Linked DNA regions of Homo sapiens. The protein of the gene in region 2 binds, or shares a complex with, the protein of the main gene of each other region. Each region holds a gene or a part of one and is shown on either strand. Other genes may lie near its edges. A codon is read from its position in the direction of its gene.

Evidence for each region.
Region 1: the proteins of DENR (region 2) and MCTS1 are in contact, whole or in part, in a crystal structure (PDB 5ONS), measured with the Homo sapiens proteins. Residues at the interface, in NP_003668.2 of Homo sapiens: Ala25 (codon at 3,460), Tyr27 (codon at 3,454), Pro28 (codon at 3,451), Leu29 (codon at 3,448), Val31 (codon at 3,442), Tyr33 (codon at 3,436), Cys37, Ser38, Leu39, Pro40, Glu42, Tyr43, Glu45, Tyr46, Met47; in NP_054779.1 of Homo sapiens: Trp39 (codon at 1,634), Gln42 (codon at 1,625), Arg83 (codon at 983), His86 (codon at 974), Lys87 (codon at 971), Tyr88, Pro89, Phe90, Lys99, Ile102, Lys103, Leu106, Ala136, Lys139, Gln140, His141, Ala142, Leu143, Leu170, Asn171, Trp175, Lys178.

What each region holds. Positions count from the first base shown.
Region 1 is NC_000023.11:120,596,140-120,607,143, reverse strand, and holds the start of MCTS1 (malignant T-cell-amplified sequence 1), read right to left. Parts: upstream 3,044-11,004; 5' UTR 2,908-3,043; coding exon 2,897-2,907; intron 2,446-2,896; exon of another isoform or gene 2,291-2,445; coding exon of another isoform or gene 2,277-2,290; intron 1,738-2,276; coding exon 1,585-1,737; intron 1,066-1,584; coding exon 968-1,065; intron 1-967. UniProt on the Homo sapiens protein: Translation regulator forming a complex with DENR to promote translation reinitiation.
Region 2 is NC_000012.12:122,745,683-122,757,233, reverse strand, and holds the start of DENR (density-regulated protein), read right to left. Parts: upstream 4,411-11,551; 5' UTR 4,284-4,410; intron 3,542-4,283; 5' UTR 3,533-3,541; coding exon 3,427-3,532; intron 1-3,426. UniProt on the Homo sapiens protein: Translation regulator forming a complex with MCTS1 to promote translation reinitiation.

The DNA.
Region 1 (11,004 bases), on a different chromosome or scaffold from region 2:
CAATTTTTAAAAACTATGTAACAGAGAGCCCAATTTTAAAAAAAAATGCATTTACACACATCACAGGAAATACCTGGACGGAAGGACACTTAGTCAATGCTTTCCCATATATAGACTTTTCTCTATTAGGCAAATAGATACAAATATAAAAGATGAAAATGCTCACAATGCTTATCACAGTTTGTAAATACATATTTGCGTAATTATCTAATTGTTGTTTATTCTCCAAACTAGACTATTAGTTTCTTAAGGACAGAGACAATGTCTTTGCTTCCCATTGTATTCTCAGCACCTAGCTGAATGCCTAGCACATAGTAAGTTCAATAAATATTTGTCTTTTTTTTTTTTTTTTTTTTTTTGAGACTAAGTCTCGCTCTTGTTCCCCAGGCTAGAGTGCAATGGCGTGATCTCTGCTCACTGCAACCTCCGCCTCGCGGGTTGAAGTGATTCTCCTGCCTCAGCCTCCCGAGTAGCTGGGATTACAGGCACCTGTGACCACGCCCGGCTAACTTTTGTATGTTTAGTAGAGACGGGGTTTCACCATGTTGGCCAGGCTGGTCTCGAACTCCTGATCTCAGGTGATCCACCCGCCTTGGCCTCCCAAAGTGCTGGGATTACAGGCGTGAGCCTCCGTGCCCGGCAATAAATATTTGTTGAATGAATTAATAAATGATCTTTCTTGGGCTTTCTGGAATGCATGAGAGAATCTGCATTTTTCAGATTTACCACAAGATGGGCATTCATTTTAGTTTTACATCCATTATTACCTAGTACTAATAAATAATGAGTCAATTATCAGAAGTCACTCTAAACTCTTTTTGTGTCTTTCAGTATTCCCAAATGCATATTTCTGTTTTTCTCCCCCAGCAGTGTCTTATCTGATTAAATGCATATTTCTTACAAGACTTTACATTTGAATATTGCAATAGGAGTAAAATTTCAAAAAATAAAAATAAAAAAACCTTACATTTGTGAAGTAATCTTAGGGTTGGATAAAAAGGCCCTTCTCTTTGTCTAAAAAAGAGTAATTCTCCATTTACTGTAAGGATTTCTATATGTTCATGGCTGTAAGACAAATGTCACAAAGTACCAAGTTAGATATTTTCTTTCAAAAATTCACAATATAAAACACGCATATACAGTGATAAACTTTCTTAAAAAGTCAGTAAAAATCCTGGCCAAAAAATATTGTTTACATTGTTTTTCCTATCATGCAAGTCCAGTAGAGAAAAAAAGAAAAATATTACCTGCTACAACCAATTTTATTTCACATTTTATTAATTCCATTGTTAGGTAATTCAATAAAACAATTCTCTAAACAACAAACTGAAATAAATTAAATCCAACTCTGAACTAAAACATTTAACTCTTTACTAGAACAATCAATACACAAAGCCACATTTTTTCAGGGACATAGAAAATCTTTGAAAATACAAATATTGGAGTTTTAGAGTTATTCTGTGTCTACCCCATTATTAATCTATCAATAGTTAATCTGAAAATAATTCCATTTAGTATGAGTGCAATCTAATCATTAAATATTCAGCTATACCGAGCTTTACACAGACAAAAACAAAGACTTACCATCGGACTATTTTGACAGGATCTTTCTTAGGCATGATTTGATTAAGCCATGGTTCAATACCTGGAAATTGCTCTATCAATTGATTCTTAATACCCTTAATAACTGAAGTTTTCAACTGGATGCAGTTGGACACATTTTCTTTTTCATCAAATCTGCCAAGTAATTTTTGCAAGAAAAGAAAAGGCATTTCTAAGTAGAGGTATCAGAATACCTAAAGGTACTGTTCTAATTAGTCATTTATTCCCAACCAAGTATTTAGATACTTAATTATGAAATAAATTGTTCTTTTAAAAAAAAATACCATCTCCCTTTTACTCTGTCCAGCACAAAACCAATGTCTTAATACAATATTGAAATAAACTGTCAAGTATACAGCAATTAGCTGGGGTTAGGGGGAGGAATATGAGACATACTTTGCACCATAATCTGTAATTAGCTACACAAATGCCTTTCCTGGAAAATCTTATTCAATTCTACCCAGGAAGAAACACAGGCTCCCACCAATAATAAAACCTGAGATCAGAAAACAAAACCCTCAATTCTTGAGATACAAAAGACCAACCCAAGCATAACATAGAAAATCGGCCCCTGCTAGGCTATGTAATCTGCTGAGATTTTTTTTAAGTGATGATAATAATGATTTCTAAGATCCCTATTCGTTTTTGCTCAAAATTTCATGCACAAAACCCACCTTCCTTTGCCCATGTTCCCCCTTTGCTTTTTGCGTCTACCAAATCTGGAAGGCAAACCCACTAGTAGGTTCCCAAGGAATTTTTGTCTTCCTTACACTGAATAGCCTATGGGGCAATCGTTATTTTCAAGGCAAGGTTAATCTGGCAGCTAGGCAATAGGCATGACAGGCCGCTTGCTTCCTGTCACCCAGACTCCTTCACTCCCATGACCCAGGAAGTCAAGCCTTCCTTTATTCAGTTCATAACTAATAAACATATGGCAGTGAGCGCAGGGCTCCCCTCTCAGCTACAGAGAATATGCCTCTAAATCACAGTGCACGGATGTGATTGGTAGAACCCTAGGAATGGAGACAGAATTGGGGGAGGGGGCAAAAGAGAAAGAGGGGTAAGGAGAAAAAACAATGGGAGTGGAGGGACTGAAACCCAATTAAGGACTACGGATGGAAAGCTTAAAGAAGTGTTCAAGTTGGGAGTGAGAGCATAGTACTATAGAAAACCTTAGGGAGTCAGGATGGCAGGGGCGGGGGAGAGAGAAAGAGGATCTTAGCTCTCGCCCTCTTCCCCACCCCCACCCCACCGCCTTTGTGAGCAGCCGATGGAGGCCACAGCATGTCCTTACTTCTTGAACATGATCCAAGGTGAAGGGGGCGACGATAGGGAAGGGCCCGGAATGGGAAAGAAATTGAATTTGCAGGGGTCCGGCAGATCCCCTCACACGAGGAAGGCCGGCACTGACAGTCGGAGCTGTAGTCGTTATCCGGAAAACGAGAGCCAGCCGCGCTTTACGGCTCTCAGTCAAATCTGACTACTTCCGCTCCTCTGGACTCCACGTAGGCGCTTTTGCCGGCTCCTTTTAGGCAACCGGTTCCTCAGCAGTTGGAGGTAGCTGAAAGGGCGGGACTTGAGAGGGAAGAAGTGATAGAGCAATTGCAGGAAGAGAAGAATGGAGGGGGCGGAGAATCAATCAAAGTAGCATTTATGGCACTTGCGTCAGTTACGGGTTCCTCAAAGGGTCAAGATTCTTCCGTGCTTCGTTGCTACCTATCGTCAAAGTAAACGATTTTTTTAGAGGGAATGGTTTCTGTCCTGTCTGAGGCAACCGAATGGATTGGTGCTTACCTACCAGCATGAATCCAGGCAACCCTCATGGCTTCATGTTAAAGTGCTGGTAGGATTGCCAGGTTTAGCAAATGAAAATACAGGATGCCTATTTAAATTTGCATTTCAGGTAAACAATGAATATTTGTTTTAGTGTAAGTATACCTCATTAATATTTTGGATATACTTACACTAAAAATATACAGCGCTTGTTTAGCTGAATTTAATTGAGCATCCTGTTTTTTATCTTATAACCTTATTCACTGGCAACCGTACGATGCTCCCAAAGTTTTTTGCGGGTTTTTATTGAGACAGGGCCTCACTCTTGCCCAGGCTTGAATGCGGTGGTGCTATCATGGCTCACTTGCAGCCTCTACCTCCTTGGCTCAAGGGATCTTCCCACTTCAGCCTCCCAAGTAGCATGGACTACAGGCACACACCATCATGCCCGGTTAATTTTTTTATTTTTATTATTATTATTATTATTGTAGAGACGGGGTCTATGTTGCTCAGGCTGGTTGCAAAGTCCTGGGCTCAAGCAGTCCTCCCACCTTGGCATCCCAAAGTGCTGGGGTTACAAGCGTGAATGACTGTGCTCCCGTAGAATAATTCCCATAGAATTATTACAGAAGGTAATCTGATTTAAGAGATAATAGCTAAAGAGACATGTTTTACTTATGTAATTTTTTTAAAAATAAAGCTGATAGAGAAACAAAATTATGCCAATCAAGAGTTTCACTTTGTTTTTTGTTTTAGAGACAGCATCTCACTCTGTCACCTAGGCTGGAGTGCAGTGGCATGATCACGGTTCATTGGAGTTGCAACTTCCCAGGCTCAAGTGACCCTCCCGCCTCAGCCTCCGGAGTAGTTGGTACTACAGGCATGCACTACCACACCTGGCGAATTTTAATTTTTTGTAGAGACAGGCAGGGTCTCACTAAGTTGCCCAGACTGATCTTGAACTCCTGGCCTCGAGCAATTCCCCGAACTCAGCCTCCCGAAGTGTTGGGATTACAGCCATGAGCTACTGTGCCTGGCCTAATCAAGGGTTTTGATCAGCCAAGAAATCATGGAAAAATTTAAAAACCTGAAAAGGCCCTACGCAGGAGGTGGGGTGGGTAGGCACTGACATCCAAAACAAATACACCAGTCTCCCCAGGGAGTAAATACTCTAGTCCATATTGAGGAGACGGGCCATTAGAGCAATTATAGCAAACAGTACTATGCATTTAAATGATCCAACTAACACCTTGTCTTAATTCTATGGTATGAACAATATTCTGATTATAATTTGGCTTCCCATGAAGATCTGCCCACAGGGAAAGAATTAGCTACGTTCCAATCAAATCTGCATGAACAATTATGTTTGCATTTGTAAATTAATAAATTGGCATTCTGGTTTATACAACACTCTCTTGTGAACATCCTTAGTGAGAATCCACATTCCCAGCATCCATCAACTCTGCAACATTTAGAATATTGACATTATGAACATGTGAAACTGATGTCCAGACCCCAAGCTGTGGTGACTGCCACACTGGCAGGATTATTTTTTTTTAATTTTTATGGGTACCTAGTAGGTGTATAAATTTATGGGGTATATGAGATGTACAGGCATGCAATGTGAAATAAGCACATCATAGAAAACGGGGCGTCCATCCCCTCAAGTATTTATCCTTTGAGTTACAAACAATTCAATTATGCTCTTTAACTTATTTTAAAATATACAATTAGGTTATTATTGACTATAGTCACAGTACTAGTTCATTCTCACACTGCTAGAATACCTGAGTCTGTGTAATTTATAAAGTAAAGAAGTTTAATTGACTCACAGTTCTGCATGGCTGGAGAGGGCTCAGGAAACTTACAATCATGGCAGAAGGGGAAGCAAACACATCCTTCTTCACAAGGTGGCAGGAGAAAGAAGTGTGTGGAGCAAAGGGTGAAGAGCCCCTTATAAAACTATTAGATCTCGTGAGCACTCACTCACTATCACAAGAACAGCATGCAGAAAGCCACCCCCATGATCCAATCACCTCCCACCAGGTCTCTCCCCAGACATGTGGGGATTATGCAGATTACAATTCAAGATGAGATTTGGGGGGGACACATCCAAACCATGTAAGTCACCCTATTTTGCTATCACATAGAAGGTCTTAGTCATTCTTTCTGTTTTTAATACCTATTAGCCAACCCCACCTCCACTACCCAACCCCCCACTACCCAACCCCCCACTATCCTTCCCAGCACCTGGTAACCATCCTTCTATTCTGTGTGTCCATGAGTTCAATTGATTTGATTTTTAGATCCCACAAATAAGTGAGAACATGTGACGTTAGTCTTTCAGGGCCTGGGTTATTTCACTTAACATAGTCAACTCCAGTTCCATCCATGTGATTGCAAATGACAGGATCTCATTTTTTTATGGCTGAATAGTACTCCATTGTGTATCTGTACCACATTTTCTTTATCCAAACATCTGTTGATGGACACTTAGGTTACTTCCAAATCTTAGCTGTTGTAAACACCGCTGTAAGAAACATAGGAGTGCAGATATTTCTCTGATATACTCATTTCCTTTCTTTTTGGGTAGATACCCAGGAGTAGGATTGCTGGATCATATGGTAGCTCAATTTTTAGCTTTCTGAGGAACCTCCAAACTGTGCTCCATAGTGGTTGTACTAATTTACATTCCCACCAACAGTGTACAAGTGTTCCCTTTTGTCCACATCTTCACCAGCATTTGTTATTACCTGTCTTTGGATATAAGCCATTTTAACTGGGGTGAGATGATATCTTGTAGTTTTGATTTGCATTTCTCTCATGACCAATGATGCTGAGCAACTTTTCTTTTGCCTGTTTGCCATTTGTGTGTCATCTTTTGAGAAATGTCTATTCAAATATTTTGCCAATTTCTTGATTGTATTATTAGATTTTTTCCTATAGAGTTGTTTGAACTCCTTATATATTCTGGTTGTTAATCACTGGTCAGATGGGTAGTTTGCAAATATTTTCTCCCATTCCATGGGTTGTCTTTTCACTTTGGTGATTGTATCCTTTGCTGTGCAGAAGCTTTTTAACTTTATGCAATGCAGTTTGCCCATGTTTGCTTTGGTTGTCTGTACTTGTTGGGTATTGCTCAAGAAGTCGTTGCCCAGACCAATGTTGTGGAGATTTTCCCCAATGTTTTCTTGCAGTAGTTTCATGGTTTGAGGTCTTAGATTTAAGTCTTTAATCCATTTTGAATTGACTTTTTTATATGTCAAGAGAGAGTCTCGCTCTGTTGCCCAGGCTGGAGTGCAGTGGCGCGATCTAAGCTCCCTGCACCCTCTGCTTCCCGGGTTCAAGAAATTCTCCTGCCTCAGCCTCCTGAGTAGCTAGGATTACAGGCGTGTGCCACCATGCCCAGCTAATTTTTTTTTTGTATTTTTAATAGAGATGGTGTTTCACCATATTGGCCAGGCTGGTCTCAAACTCCTGACCTAGTGATCTGCCCACCTTGGACTCCCAATGTGCTCAGATTATAGGTGTGAGCCACCGTGCCCGGCCAGTGTATTTTACTTTTCATTATAGAGACCTTTCACTTCTTATAGTTCAGTCAATTCCTAGGTATTTAATTTTACATGTGGCTATTGTAAATGAGATTATTTTTTAAATTTCTTTTTCAGATTGTTCACTGTTGGCATATAGAAATGCTACTAATTTTTGCATTTTGATTGTGTATCCTACAATTCTAATGAATTTATCAGTTCTAATAGTTTTCTCATGGAGTCTAGTTTATTCTAAATATAAGATCATATCATCAACGAACAAGGATAATTTGACTTCTTCTTTTCCAAATTGGATGCCCTTTGTATCTCTCTCTTGTCTGACTGCTCTAACTAGCACTTTCAGAATAACAGTGATGACAGTGGGCATCCTGTCATGTTCTGGATCTTAGAGGAAAGGCTTTAAGTTTTTCCCCCTTCAGTATAATACTAGGTGCAGGTCTATCGTATATGACTTTTGTTATGTTAAGGTATGTTTTTTCTATCCCCGGATATTGAGGGTTTCTATCATGAGGAAATGTTGAATTTTATCAAATGCTTTTTCAGCATCAACTGAAATGAAAGGTTTTTATTTCAAACTGAAACTGAAGGTTTTTATCCTTCATTCTGTTGACAGGCTGTATCACATTGATTGGTTTGTGTATATTGAGCCATCCTTGAATCCCAGGGATAAATCCCAGTTGGTCATGATGAATGATCTTTCTAATGTATTGTTGAATTTAGTTTGCTAGTATTTTGTTGAGGATTTTTTTTTTCTTTGAGACGGAGTCTCACTCTGTCACCCTGGCTGGAGTGCAGTGGTGCGATCTCGGCTCACTGCAAGCTCTGCCTCCCAGGTTCATGCCATTCTCCTTCCTCAGCCTCCCGAGTAGCTGGGACCACAGGTGCATACCACCATGCCCAGCTAATTTTTTTGTATTTTTAGTAGAGACAGGGTTTCACCATGTTAGCCAGGATGGTCTCGATTTCCTGACCTTGTGATTCACCCACCTCAACCTGGGAAAGTGCTGGGATTACAGGCATGAGCTACCGTGCCCGGCCGAGGATTTTTGCATCAGTGGTCATCAGAGATATTGGCCTGAGACTGAGTCTTGCTCTGTCACCCAGGCTGGAGTGCAGTGACACGATCTCAGCTCACTGCAACCTCCGCCTCCCAGGATCGAGTGATTCTCCTGCCTCAGCCTCCCAAGTAGCTGGGATTACAGGCACGCGTCACCACGCCCAGCTTTTTTTTGTATTCTTAGTAGAGACAGGGTTTCACCATGTTGGTCAGGCTGGTCTTGAACTCCTGACCTCGTGATCTGCCCGCCTCTGCCTCCCAAAGTGCTGGGATTACAGGTGTGAGCCACCACGCCCGGCTGTGGTTTTCTTTTATTGTGTCTTTGTCTGGTTTTGGTATCAGAGTAATGCCAGTCTCATAGAGTGAATTTAGAAGTATTCCCTCCTCCTCTATTTTTTGGAATGGTTTGAGTAGGATCAGTATTAGTTCTTCTTTAAATGTTTGGTAGAATTCAGCAATGAAGCCTTTGGGTCCTGGGCTTTTCTTTACTGGGAGACTTTTTATTACAGCTTTGATCTCATTACTTGCTTTTGTGCTGTTCAGGTTTTGGATTTCTTCCTGATTCAATCTTAGTAGGCTGTGTGTGTCTAGGAATTTGGCCATTTCTTCCAGATTTTCCAATTCATTGGCATATAGTTGCTCATAGTAGCCTCTAATGATCCTTTGAATTTCTGTAGTATCAGTTTTAATACCTCCTTTTTCATTTCTGGTTTTATTTGGATCTTCTCTCTTTTTTTCTTAGTTAATCAGGCTAAATGTTTGTCAATTTTCTTTAACTTTTCAAAAAATATCTTTTTGTTTCATTGATCTTTTGTATTGTTCTCTTCATCTCAATTTCATTTATTTCTGCTCTGAACTTCACTATTTCTTTTCTTCTACTAATTTTAGGTTTGATTTGCTCTTGCTTTTCTAGTTCTTTAAGATGCATCATTAGATTATTTATTTGGAGTTTTTCTTCTTTTTTGGATGTAGGCACTTAGAGCTATAAACTTTCCTCTGAGTACTGCTTTTGCTGTATCTCATGGGATTTGATAGGTTGTGTTTCCATTATCATTTGTTTCCAGACATTTTTCAGTTTCCTTCTTAACTTCTTCACTGATCCAGTGGTCATTCAAGAGCATATTGTTTAATTTCCCTGTGTTTGTATAGTTTCCAAAATTCCCCTTGTTATTAATTTCTAGTCTTATTCCATTGTGGTCAAAGAAGATGCTTGATATTATTTCAATTTTTGAATTTTTTAAGACTTGTTTTGTAACCTAAGATATAGTCTATCCTTGAGAATTATCCATGTGCTCAGGAAAAGAATGTGTATTCTGCAGCTCTTAAATGACATGTTCTGTAAATATCTATTAGACCCATTTGGTCTACAGTGCAGATTAAGTTTGATGATTCTTTGTTGATTTTCTGTCTGAAAGGTCTGTCCAATGCTGAAAATGGGGTGTTGAGGTCTCCAGCTATTATTGTTTTGGGACCTATCTCTTTCTTTAGCTCTAATAATATTTGATTTATATGTCTGGGTGCTCCAGTGTTGGGTGCATATATATTTAGAATTGTTATATCTTCTTGCTGAATTGACCCCTTTGTCACTACACGGTGACCTTCTTTGTCTCTTCTTCTGGTTCTTATCTTGAAATCTATTTTGACTGATGTAAGTATGGCAAATCCTGCTCTTTTTTGGTTTCCATTAGCATGGAACATCTTTTTCCATTCCTTTATTTTCAGTCCATGTGTGTTTTTATAGATGAAGTGTGTTTCTTGTAGCAACAGATCAATGGGTCTTGTTTATTCATCCATTCAGCTACTCTATGTCTTTTGATTGGAGAATTTAGCCTATTTACATTCAATGTTATTATTGATAAGTAAGGACTTATTCCTGCCATTTTGTTATTTGTTCTCTGATTGTTTTGTGGTCTACTCTTCCTTGTTTCATTCCTGTATTCCTCTAGTGAAGGTGATTTTCTCTGGTGATATGACATAATGTCTTTCTATGTTTTTTTATCCATTGTATGTTCTTCAGTTTGAGGTTACCATGAGGCTTGCAAATAATAACTTATAACCCATTATTTTAACCTGATAACAAGTTGACACTATACACATAAAGGAACAAACAAGCAAAAAAAAAAAAAACTAATAAAAACTCTACACGTTAACTTCATCCCCACCGCTTTTTAACTTTTTATTGTTTCTATTTACCTCTTATTGTATTGACTATGTCTTGATGAGTTTTTGTAGTTGTTATTTTTGATTGGTTCATCATTTTGTCTTTCTACCTAGTATAAGAATAGTTTACACACCACAGTTACAGTGTTATAATATTCTGTGTTTTTCTGTGTACTATTACCAGTCAGTTTTGTACCTTCAGGTGATTATTGCTCATTAATGCCCTTTTCTTCCTGATTGAAGTACTCCCTTTAGCATTTCTTGTAGGACAGGTCTGGTGTTGATGAAATCCCTCAGCTTTTGTTTGCCTGGGAAAGTCTTTATTTCTCCTTCATGTTTGAAGGATATTTTCATCAAATATACTATTCTAGGGTTACAGTGTTTTTCCTTCAGCACTCTAAATATGTCACACCACTCTCCTAATCTGTAAGGTTTCCACTGCTGCCAGATGTATTGAAGCTCCATTCAATGTTATTTGTTTCTTTTATCTTGCTGTTTTTAGGATCCTTTCTTTATCCATGACCTTTGGGAGTTTGATTATTAAATGCCTTGAGGTAGTCTTCTTTGGGTTAAATCTGTTTGGTGTTCCACAACCTTCTTGTACTTGGGTATTGATATCTTTCTCTAGGTTTGGCAAGTTCTCTTGTTATCATCCCGCTAAATAAACTTTCTACCCCTATATCTTTCTCTACCTCCTCCTTAAGGCCAATAACTCTTAGATTTGCTCTTTTGAGGCTATGTTCTAGATCCTGTAGGTATGCTTCCTTGTTTTTTATTTCTTCTTTTGTCTCCTCTAACTGTGTATTTTCAATTAGCCTGTCTTCAAGCTCACTAATTTTTTTGTCTGCTTGATCAATTCTG
Region 2 (11,551 bases):
ACTTTAGCTGAGAGCAAATTCTCTAATTTGCATCCTTCTTTTTGCAAAAGGGGAAAGGGAGGGAGGGGGAAGGAATGATAAGAAAAATGCCTATGTCACTATCGCTTCTATTTTTCTCTTTAATCAGTTGGGTATTCTATTGGAGGGTTTTCCCTCTTCTCTAAGCACTCCAGCAATACTAAATGTCTGTCAAAACTACATCCAGTTTATTTCTCCCATCTCCCTTGTCCTCAAATCTGATTAACTGCTTTATACTGTTCATCCTACCATAATTTATTTTTCAACCTCTCTTCCTCACTTATGCCACTCATTTAAATGCTCATTAATTTTGTCTAAAGTCTTATTATAGCCTGGCCAATAAGCCTGCCTCCCTCAATTGTTATCTTGCTGCCAGATTCATCTTCATGTAACTTCACTGCTCCAAAACTTTCAATGACTTACAATTATCTACAAATCAGGTGCCCCAGAACTTGGCCCCAAACCACGTTGCCATAATTTCCGGCTGCCCCTCTTCATGAATTCCACAATACAACCAAACTGTAACACTCGAAACTCCCTCCACACTACCCACTATTAAATACTTTCCTACCTCCACTCCTTTGCCTGGCAAGTCCAACCTTCAGCCCTTCTGTGCCTGCCTGAATGCAACCTTTCCTTCAAATCCCCATTTGGCTGTGGTTGCCTCTATGAAGTCTTCCCCTAATTTCCTACAAATCTCTCCCCTCCTGTACTGACACTGCAGCTATTAGTCCTTAATCTTTATTTCTTGTCTCTTTCTTCTTTTTTTTCTGGGATGGAGTTTTGCTCTCAAAGGCTGAGTGCAGTGGCACGATCTTGGCTCACTGCAATCTCCGCCTCCCAGGTTTAAGCGATTCTCCTGCCTCAGCCTCCCGAGTAGCTGGGATTACAGGCGCCTGCCACTATGCCCAGCTAATTTTTGTATTTTTAGTAGAGACAGGGTTTCACCATGTTGGCCAGGCTGGTCTTGAACTCCTGACCTCAGCTGATCCACCCACCTTGGCCTCCCAAAGTGCTTGGATTACAGGTGTGAGCCACCGCGCCTGGCCTATTTCTTGTCTCTTTCTTTCAGCATTCATCATCTTCCCTGTTAAGTTATATGTAGACAGACAGGGCCTCTGCCAATTTATATGCCTCCACAGAACTTAGCCGAGGACCTTATACATCAGAGATACTAGGTAAAAATTGTTTATAGTCTTTGTAAATTGTTGATTATGATGTGGACTCTATTAACAATGTCATCATACCTTCTTACCAAGCTGGCTAACAAAATCCACTACTTTTACAAAATGGTAATGTTAGAAATTAAAAGGTACAGTCTAATCCCATCTCCACTACTAGTTTCTTCAATTAAGCATAAGAATGTTTTTACATTAAGTGGAAGCCTGTACTGTTCTGGAGAGTGTTGACAAGGTAGAAAGGCACCTTTCAGTAGTTTCCACTTTAGTCCTAGTTCACTGACCCTCTGAGGTCACAGGGAATAGATCTTATCCTTTACTCACATAGGTTTCCAAATTTAAAGAGTTGTTTCACAGGTAATCATTATATAAAAATATAATAGGAATCTATATTCTGAGCATCTTGTTAAAATAAATGTATCAGTTTTTCTCACATCCTTAGTTTTGTTTTTTATTTTTGAGATGGGGTCTCGCACTGTTGCCCGGGTGGGAGTGCAATGGCGTGATCTCGGCTCACTGCAACCTCTGCCTCCCGGGTTCAAGTGATTCTCCTGCCTCAGCCTCCCAAGTAGCTGGGATTACAGGTGCCTGCCACCAGGCCTGGCTAAGTTTTTGTATTTTTAGTAGAGACGGGGTTTCACTATGTTGGCCAGGCTGGTCTTGAACTCCTGACCTCATGATCTGCCTGCCTCAGCCTCCCAAAGTGCTGGGATTACAAGTGTGAGCCACTGCGCCCGGCCCCTTAGTTTTAATTCATAATTACAGAAAAATAAAACAAGATTTCTAGAGACTGACATTTTCACTAAGCTTCCAAACTTCTCACCAACTAAGCAATTCTCTATGTGGTGAAATCTACCCAGTTCACCTCGTTCCAGGTACACCCCAAGAATCTTTCTGGCTTTTCTCTCTTTCTCCCTTAGAAAAGCTCATATACTGTCTCTCTCTGCTGCCAAATGCAGCATACTTGGATTCTTCCATTTGGAGAAACTCAAATTCACTGTATTGCAAGTCAGCCTATTATCTATCTCCAAATCTAATCTTTCTCAAAGTCATCATTTTTAGTGGTGTTCTGGTTTTTCAACTCTCTCAATTGTGAAATATCTTTTTCCTTTTTCACCATTAAACATTGTATCTTTTCTTTGATTAACCCTCTTTATTCACTTTTATACTGCTTACACTCTCAGCAAGGCACTTATTTACCTCAAACCTAGATTTCTGAAAGTGGCCTTCAAATTTGTGGGTTCTATTTCCTCCAAATAATGCAGCATATTAATCTCTTGTCACTTTATTTTCCTGCTCAAAAAATGATTAGGTTGGTGCAAAAGTAACTGCAGTTTTTGCCATTACTTTTAATGGCAAAAAGATATCATTTCTCCTTCTACGGTACTTAAATGTCAGATGTGGTCTCTACTGCAGTCACAGAATGTAAGGTCCACGTGAACAAGGATCTTCTGACTTATTCACTACTCAGGCCCCAGCACCTAAAACATCACTAGGCACACAGTAAGTTCTGAGAAATATTTACTGAAAAAATATTTACTTGCCCTTTTACTGTCCTGTATCTTCAGATTTTTCTGAAAGTTTCCAAGATGCGAATACATACAGCATTTACAATTCACAAATATTTCTATATTGAAAATGAAGAAAAACACTCGAAAGTGAAAAAGATCTTGATTAAACCTAATACATATATCATGATTCAAACCAAGAAGACTTTCCTCACTGTCCTACCACCCAACACTCCAACCTCACCTTCTCCCACTCCTTAACGGGCCACCCTCCCTATACGATACACCAGACAAACTCAAAGCTGCTCACTTCTTCACAGACAGCCATCAAGCTTTTTCTTACATAGTCGTGCGCTTTGTCTGGGACGCCGTTCCCCACCTTCTCATCCAGTCCTTGCCATCCTTAACTCATAATCTTCCAAGAAGCCCTCCTTTGACAGCTAGACTAGCATACACCTTGAGGACCTTCAGGCTGAAATAACCTAGTTGCACATCCTGTTACAAATGGACTGTAAGCTTCTTCAGGCAGAGTAGCCAGACACAAATCACCCAGGTGGGGAAACTCTGTTAATTCATGCCTCCTCCTCCCCAGGACTCCTCTCCCCCAGTACAAACTCACCAAATGAAAAGGATGGGGAAGAAAGCTTACCAAATGTCAAACTGTTATTACAATGCATAAAAGTATAGTGAGTAAAAGTCATTCTGTGGCTACCAACACTTGCCTCCACAATAAAGGACTCGAAGTGGGTAATCGGCATCTAACTTGGCACTGTTCCTTGGGTCTCCTTTGCAGTCAGCCCCGCTGGATTCAGAAATGTCAGCAGCCATTTCACAAACCTGTAAGCAAGGAAAATAACACACCCTCACTATTTTAGAATCAAGACCCCAGAAGAGCAGTGTTCCTCTCAACAGAAACCTCCCCACCCCAAAGCTGTTTCAAGTCTGTTGTTGAGTGGGGGATACAAGCTGCATTCGATTCATAAAATATGAGCAATCCCAGGCACAACATCTCCTTGCTCCACAGGTCTACAGGGAAGCAAGCAGCAAATGGACCATGAAGGATGGGGCAGAGGGACTCACTAGAGAAAAACAGGAAGCAATGGGGAAGGAAAGATGGGGTGAGTACCCACGGCAGACACGGAGCAAAAAGGTCTGAGGGTGATCTGGGAGGGATGCAAACTGCAGTGAGAGAAGGGCTACAAAGGCGCCGAATGGAGAGAGGCTGGAAGTGCCTAGGAACAAGGGGTGGGTCATCGGAGAAGCCCGGGGTGCAGGGTGTGGGGGCAACTAAACGCCATGAGAGGGGCCTGGGGAGTCTAAAAAGGGCATGGGAGGGGGCGGGGTAACCAGAGCGTAAGAAGGATGAGGAGAGAAAACGAGCGCAGAATGTAAGAGCACTGAGGGGACAAGGGCGACCAGGTCTGAGGCGAAGGAGCAACCCCGGGGACGCCAGAAGGGGCCCTTGTGGGCGGGGGTGTGGAGAGGCCCGGCCCGGCCCCCTTCCGCCAGGCAGCATCTCAGCTTCCCCCACACTCTCTACGAGCTTCTCGGGAGCGGGAGAAGCACTTGGGGTCGTTACCCAGGCGGTCGCACAGGCCCCGCCGGCTCCGCTCCCGCCGCTATCGCCAGCTGAACCAACACATGCAACTCGTCTCCCCGGCCAGGGCCGCCCGAGCGCCCGACCGCCAGCAGCGCTCCCGCGAGACAATGAGCCTTTATCGCGAGATTCCGGCCGCCGCTGGGCGGATGTCGCGAGAAGCCGGAAGACGGGGGCGGAGAAAAATTGCGGAGCGTGCGCCTTGCCCTCCGGTGGGGGGCGTGGCCAAGAGGCCGAGAGGCGGGCCGCCGGCAGGCGGTGCTCGTCACCCGTTGGAGAGGATGAATCCTCGAGATGGGCGTGCCGAAGGGAACGTGACTTGCAGACGCAGAGAGCGCACCTGAGTCACAAATGACTCCCTATTAATGAGTCCGAGGATCATCGCCTCGGTGTCTGCGGTGCATCCTGGAGTCCTGACTAACCTCCAGCTACTGCATAAATCACTCCCGTGCGGGGAGATTGCAGCCGGATAGAGCGTTTGGTCGCATTTTAACACCATGCACTGAATTAAAGGAAGGTGTTCTCCCTCCCTCCCTCCCTCCCTTCCTTCTTTCCTTCCTCTCTTCTTTTCTCTCTCTCTTCGCCGGATGGAGCGTTTGGTTGCGTTTTAACACCATACACTAAATTAAAGGAATTCTTTTTTCTTTCTTTTCTGTTCTTTCTTTTCTTTCTTCTTTCTCTTCTTTCTGTCTCTTTCTTCCCCTTCCCTCCCTCCCTCCCTTCCTTCCTTCTTTCCTTCCTTCCTCCCTCCCTTCCTTCCTTCCTCCCTCCCTTCCTTCATCCTTTTCTTTATGTTTTGACAGGGTCTCACTCTGTCACCTAGGCTGGATGGAGTGCAGTTGCACAAACACGGTTCACTGCAGCCTCGACCTCCCAAGTAGTTGGGAATACAGGCGCGCGTTACCACACCCAGCTAATTTTTAATTTGTTTATAGAGGTGGGGGAATCTCCCTATGCTGTCCAGGCTGGTCTCGAACTCCCGGACTCAAGGGATCCTCCCGCCTCCGCCTCCCAAAGTGCTGGGATTACAGGCGTGAGCCACCGCGCCCGGCCTACAATTTTTTTTAATGAAAAAAAGAAAAATGTAAGAGTATGGGAATATATGGGGAAAAGAAAGATCAGATTGTTACTGTGTCTGTGTAGAAAGAAGTAGACATAAGAGACTCCATTTTGTTCTGTGCTAAGAAAAATTCTTCTGCCTTGAGATGCTGTTAATCTGTAACCCTACCACCAACCCTGTGCTTCCTGAGACCTGTGCTGTGTCAACTGAGGGTTAAATGGATTAAGGGCTGTGCAGGATGTGCTTTGTTAAACAAATGCTTGAAGGCAGCATGCGCCTTAAGAATCATCACCACTCCCTAATCTCAAGTACCCAGAGACACAATACACTGCAGAAGGCCGCAGGGACCTCTTCCTAGGAAAGCCAGGTATTGTCCAAGGTTTCTCCTCATGTGATAGTCTGAAATATGGCCTCGTGGGAAGGGAAAGACCTGACCATTCCACAGCCCGACACCTGTAAAGGGTCTGTGCTCAGGAGGATTAGTAAAAGAGGAAGGAACACCTCTGTGCAGTTGAGATAAGAGGAAGGCATCTGTCTCCTGCTCGTCCCTGGGCAATGGAATGTCTCGGTGTAAAGCCCGATTGTATATTCCATCTACTGAGATAGGGGAAAACCGCCTTAGGGCTGGAGGTGGGACATACTGGCAGCAATACTGCTCTTTAAGGCATTGAGATGTTTATGTATATGCACATCAAAAGCACAGCACTTTTTTCTTTACCATGTTTATGATGCAGAGACATTTGTTCACATGTTTTCCTGCTGACCTTCTCTCTACTATTATACCCTATTATCCTGGCACATCCCCCTGTCCGGGAAATGCCTGCTAATGATCAATAAATACTAAGGGAACTTAGAGGCCGGTGCGGGCACGGGTCCTCCGTATGCTGAACGCCGGTCCCCTGGGCCCATTTTTCTTTCTCTACAATTTGTCTCTGTGTCTCTTTCTTTTCCAAGCCTCTCGTTCCACCTGACGAGAAATGCCCACAGGCGTGGAGGGGCAACCCACCCCTTCAGGAATAGATCTTGGTTTCAAGAATAGTTGGATCCTGCAGATAAAACAACGTATTCTAGAACCTTTCTCTCACTCTTGCTCTCAGAGAATTCTAAAACAAATGTGAGAAGTGTGTATGTTTGGTGATTTTGGGTAAACACATGGGAGTTTCTTCATACTATTCTTGTAGATTTTCTGTACATTTGAAATTATGTCAAATTTACAAGTTTTTTTTTTTTTTTTTTTTTTTTTTTGAGACAGAGTCTCGCTCTGTTGCCCAGGCTGGAGTGCAGTGGCACGATCTCGGCTCACTGCAAGCTCCGCCTCCCGGGTTCACGCCATTCTCCTGCCTCAGCCTCCCGAGTAGCTGGGACTACAGGCGCCTGCCACCACGCCGGGCTAATTTTTTGTATTTTTATTAGAGACGGGGTTTCACCGTGTTAGCCAGGATGGTCTCGATCTCCTGACCTCGTGATCCGGCCGCCTTGGCCTCCCAAAGTGCTGGGATTACAGTTGTGAGCCACCGCGCCCGGCTTACAAGTTTTTTTTTTTTAAGGTTGCTATCTCTTTTCATCTGTTGGCTCTATCCCTATGTTTTCTTCCTACTGCTTACTTACGTTATTTTCTATTAGTTTAACCATCCCAGAAGAAAGAGATATTTATCTTTTCCAACAGTTCCAGGGAACAACTCAGGTGAATGTCTCATTAGCATTTTGAGTCATGTGCTCATCCCTGGGCCAGTCACAGTGGCCACAGGGATGGAATGATCTGATTGGCCAGACCTGGTCACATGCCTATTTTTAGAGGCAAGGGGTGGAACCAAATCCCCAATCCTCCAAACCTCGGAGATGGATGGAGAGGGCGGAATCTGTTGCCCAAGGAAAATCAGGATGCTAATGCCCAAGTAGAGTGCCTGGATGCTGGGAAGACAAAAACAACACATAAATAGGCCATCATCTGCACTCTTGATCCCAGAAGCCCTGCTCAAAGGGAGAAGGATTAGGGGACTGAGATGAAGAGGGAGGAGCGGCACCACAGCAGTTAATAAAAAGCAACCTGTTCTGCTTCTCCAAAAAGTAGACGTTTAATAAGGTCATTTGCTCTTGCAGCACAGGACTGACAAGGGACACAACCAGTTCTGTCACAAGAGGCCCATAAACATTCAATGTAGAGGAGGACTAATTTTAAAAGATGATACAATTTTATCGGGATGAGATAAGCACTTTGTTAAGTCAGGCAGCAAAACCTGTCTTTGCTTAGTCAAACCAAGGACCCCCTCATATGAGGGACCCAGAGTATCAGAAGTATCAGCATAAACGCATCTCACTGGTTGAAGCTGGGATGACCCGCCACAGGTCGATTCTCAGTGGACTAAAAGCACTGGCAGAGGATCAGCTTGACTCTAATTCTGTGCTCCCAGACACTCTGAGAGTCTTACTACAATGCATTTTAGTCTTTTATTGTAAAAATATTACATGCTTCTTGCAAAATATTCAAACCATACAGAAGCATATACAGTAAAAAATGAAGGTTTCTCTCTCCCCAGAGTACTGTGACAGTTTGGTCATATAATTATAATAATAATAGTAATAGGGCGGGCGCGGTGGCTGAAGCCTGTAATCCCAGCACCATGGGAGGCCGAGGCAGGCGGATCACAAGGTCGGGAGATCCAGACCATCCTGGCTAACACGGTGAAACCCCGTCTCTAATAAAAATACAAAAAATGAGCCGGGCGTAGTGGCGGGCGCCTGTAGTCCCAGCTACTCGGGAGGCTGAGGCAGGAGAACGGCATGAACCAGGGAGGCGGAGCTTGCAGTGAGCCGAGATCACGCCACTGCACTCCAGCCTGGGCGACAGAGCAAGACTCCGTCTCAAAAAATAAAAATAAAAATAAAAAAATAATAATAATAGTAGCTACAACTTACATAGCACCTCCTCTGTGTTATACACTGTTATAAGCACTTTACACAGATTAACTCATTTTTCCTTCATATTAGAGTGATGTAATATTGTTCCTGTTTTACACAGGAGGAAACAAAGAGGTGAAATAGCTTGCCTAAGATCTCACAGCTACTCAGCGAGAGAATTAACTTTAAACCAGGCAGCTTAACTCCAGAGTACAAATTTTAAAATGTATTCCAGATTTTAAAATGTATATATAATTTTTAAAATTGAGTTGCAATTCACATAACACAATAGCACAATAACACAAAATTAACCATTTAAAGTGAGCAATTCAATGACATTTAGTATCTCCATCTGGTGTGCAAACACCACCTCTATCTACTTCCAAAACATTTCCATCACCCCAAAAGCAAACCCCAAAATCATTAAGCAGTCATTCCTCATTCTCCCCTGGCAAACGCTAACCTGAGTCCTGTCTTTATGATCTATCTATTCTGGGTATTTTATATAAATGAAATCATACTGTATGTGACCTTTTGTGTCTGGCTTCTTTTACTTACAATAATAATTTTTTTTTTTGAGACACAGTTTCGCTCATGTTGTCCAGGCTGGATTACAATGGCGTGATCTCAGCTCACTGCAACCTCTGCCTCCCAGGTTCAAGTGACTCTCCTGCCTCAGTCTCCCAAGTAGTTAGAATTACAGGTGCCCGCCACCACAACCGGCTAATTTTTTGTATTTTTAGTAGAGACAGGGTTTCACCACGTTGGGCAGGCTGGTCTCAAACTCCTGGCCTCAGGTGATCCACCCGCCTCAGCCTCTCAAAGTGCTGGGATTACAGGTGTGGGCCAACGTGCCCAACCAGAATAATGATTTTGAGACTGATACACTTTGTAGCATGACGCATCCTTTTTATAAAAGGATTCATTAAACCATTAAAAGCACTTCATCCCTTCAGCATTTTAATGGCTGAATAATATTTTCCATTGTATTTATATACCACAAATGTGTTCATCCATTCATTCACAGGTGACCATTTGTCTTGTTTCTACTTGTCCTAGTCAAGATCCTCCAGAGAAACAGGACCATAGAATTTTCTGTTTCTATAAAGACATTTATTTTGAGGAACTGATTCACACAATCATGGAGGATGGCAAGTCCCAAATCTGAAGGGTAGGCCAGCAGGCTGGACGCCCTGGGAAGAACTGATGTTGCTGGCAGAATTCTTTCTTGCTCAGACGAGCTCAGTCTTTGTTCTTCTAAGGCCTTCAACTGATCAGGTGAGGCACACCCACACTGTGGAGTGCAACCTACTTTACTCAAAGGCCACACATTTAAATGTTAATCTCATCTAAAACACACCCTCATCTAGAATAGTATTCAATCAAATATCTGGGCACCATGGCCCAGCCAAGTTAACACATAAACTAAACCAACACATCACCTTTTGGCTATAGGAAGACTGCTGTTATGAATATCCATGTACGAGTATTTGAGTCTCTGTTTTCAGTTCTCTTGGGTGTATACCTAGGAGTGGAATTGCTGAGTCGTGTGGCAATTCTATGTTGAACTTTTTGAGGAACTGCCAGACTGTTTCCCACAGCAAATGAACTTTTTATTCTCCCACCAACAACGTACAAGGAAATAAAAAACATCATATTTTAATTTATAAAAATCGAATTATACCACACAAGCTGCAAGGTGGTAGTTCGTTTTTATTCACTTAAGGACATATCTTGGACATCTTTCTGGGTTAGTACATTTAATTCTGCATCTCATAGCAGAAATGCTTAGAACAGGGCCTTTCCAAAGGCAAATGTTATACAAGTGAATGCTATTATTCTTTTTAATAAGTATAGCTTCTTTTTTTTTGAGACGGAGTTTCGCTCTCATCGCCCAGGCTGGAGTGCAGTGGCACGATATCGGCTCACTGCAACCTCTGCCTCCTGGGTTCAAGCAATTCTCCAGCCTCAGCCTCCAAAGTAGGTGGAATTACAGGTGCTTGCCGCCACGCCCGGCTATTTTTTGTATTTTTAGTAGAGACAGGGTTTCGCCATGTTGGCCAGGCTGGTCTCGAACTCCTGACCTCAGGTGATCCACCTGCCTTGGTATCCCAAAGTGCTGGGATTACAGGCATGAGCCACTGAGCCTGGCTAACAAGTATGTATTTTATTTAACAAGTGTAAATTTTTTTTTGAATGAAGTCACTATAATTTATTTATCTCATTCCCCACTGGTAAACATTTCAGTTACTCTCAATTTTCTTTCACTTAAAAAATACTATTCTAGTGGCTGGGCCCGTGGTGGCTCATGCCTGTAATCCCAGCACTTTGGGAGGTTGAGGTGGGTGGATCACCTGAGGTCAGGAGTTCAAGACCAGCCGTTAACATTATGAAACCCCATCTCTACTAAAAATACAAAAAATTAGCCCAGCGTGGTGGTGGTGGACGCCTGCAATTCTGGATATCTGGGAGGCTGAGACCTAAGAATCACTTGAACCCAGGAGGAGGAGGATGCAGTGAGCTGAGATCGCACCACTGCACTTCAGCCTGGGCAACAAGAGTGAAACTCCATCTCAAAAAAAAAAAAAATACTATTACAGGCATTCTTTTTAAAATTTTATTTTTATTTTTATTGAAATTAATAATTTTTTTTCTTTTAGAGGCAAGGTCTTACTCTAATGCCCAGGCCGGTCTCAAATTTTTGGGCTTTAGCAATCCTCCCACCTCAGCCTGCTGGGATTACAGGTGCAAGCCACCAGGCCCCACCAAAAAAAACGTTATTTTTAGAGATAGAGTCTCAATATGTTGTCTAGATTGGACCTGAATTGCTTGGCTCAAAAGATCCTCCTACTCCAGCCTCCTGAGTAGCTGGCACTACAGGCATGTGCCACCACACCGAGACTTTATTTAACTTTTTTTGAGATGGGGTCTCGCTGTGTCTCCCAGGCTAGAGAGCAGTGGCACAATCTTGTCTCACTGGAACCTCCACCTCCCGGGTTCAAGCCATTCTCCTACCTCAGCCTCCCAAGTAGCTGGGATTAAAGGAACCTGCCATCATGCCTGGCTAATTTTTGTATTTGTGTAGAGATGGGGTTTCACCATGTTGGCCAGGCTGGTCTTGAACTTCTGACCTCAGGTGATCCACCTGCCTCGGCCTCCCAAAGTGCTGGGATTACAGGCATGAGCCACTGTGCCTGGCCTACTTAACTTTTTTTTTTTTTTTTTTTTGAGACGGAGTCTTGCTCCATCTCCCAGGCTGGATTGCAGTGGCACGATCTTGGCTCACTGCAAC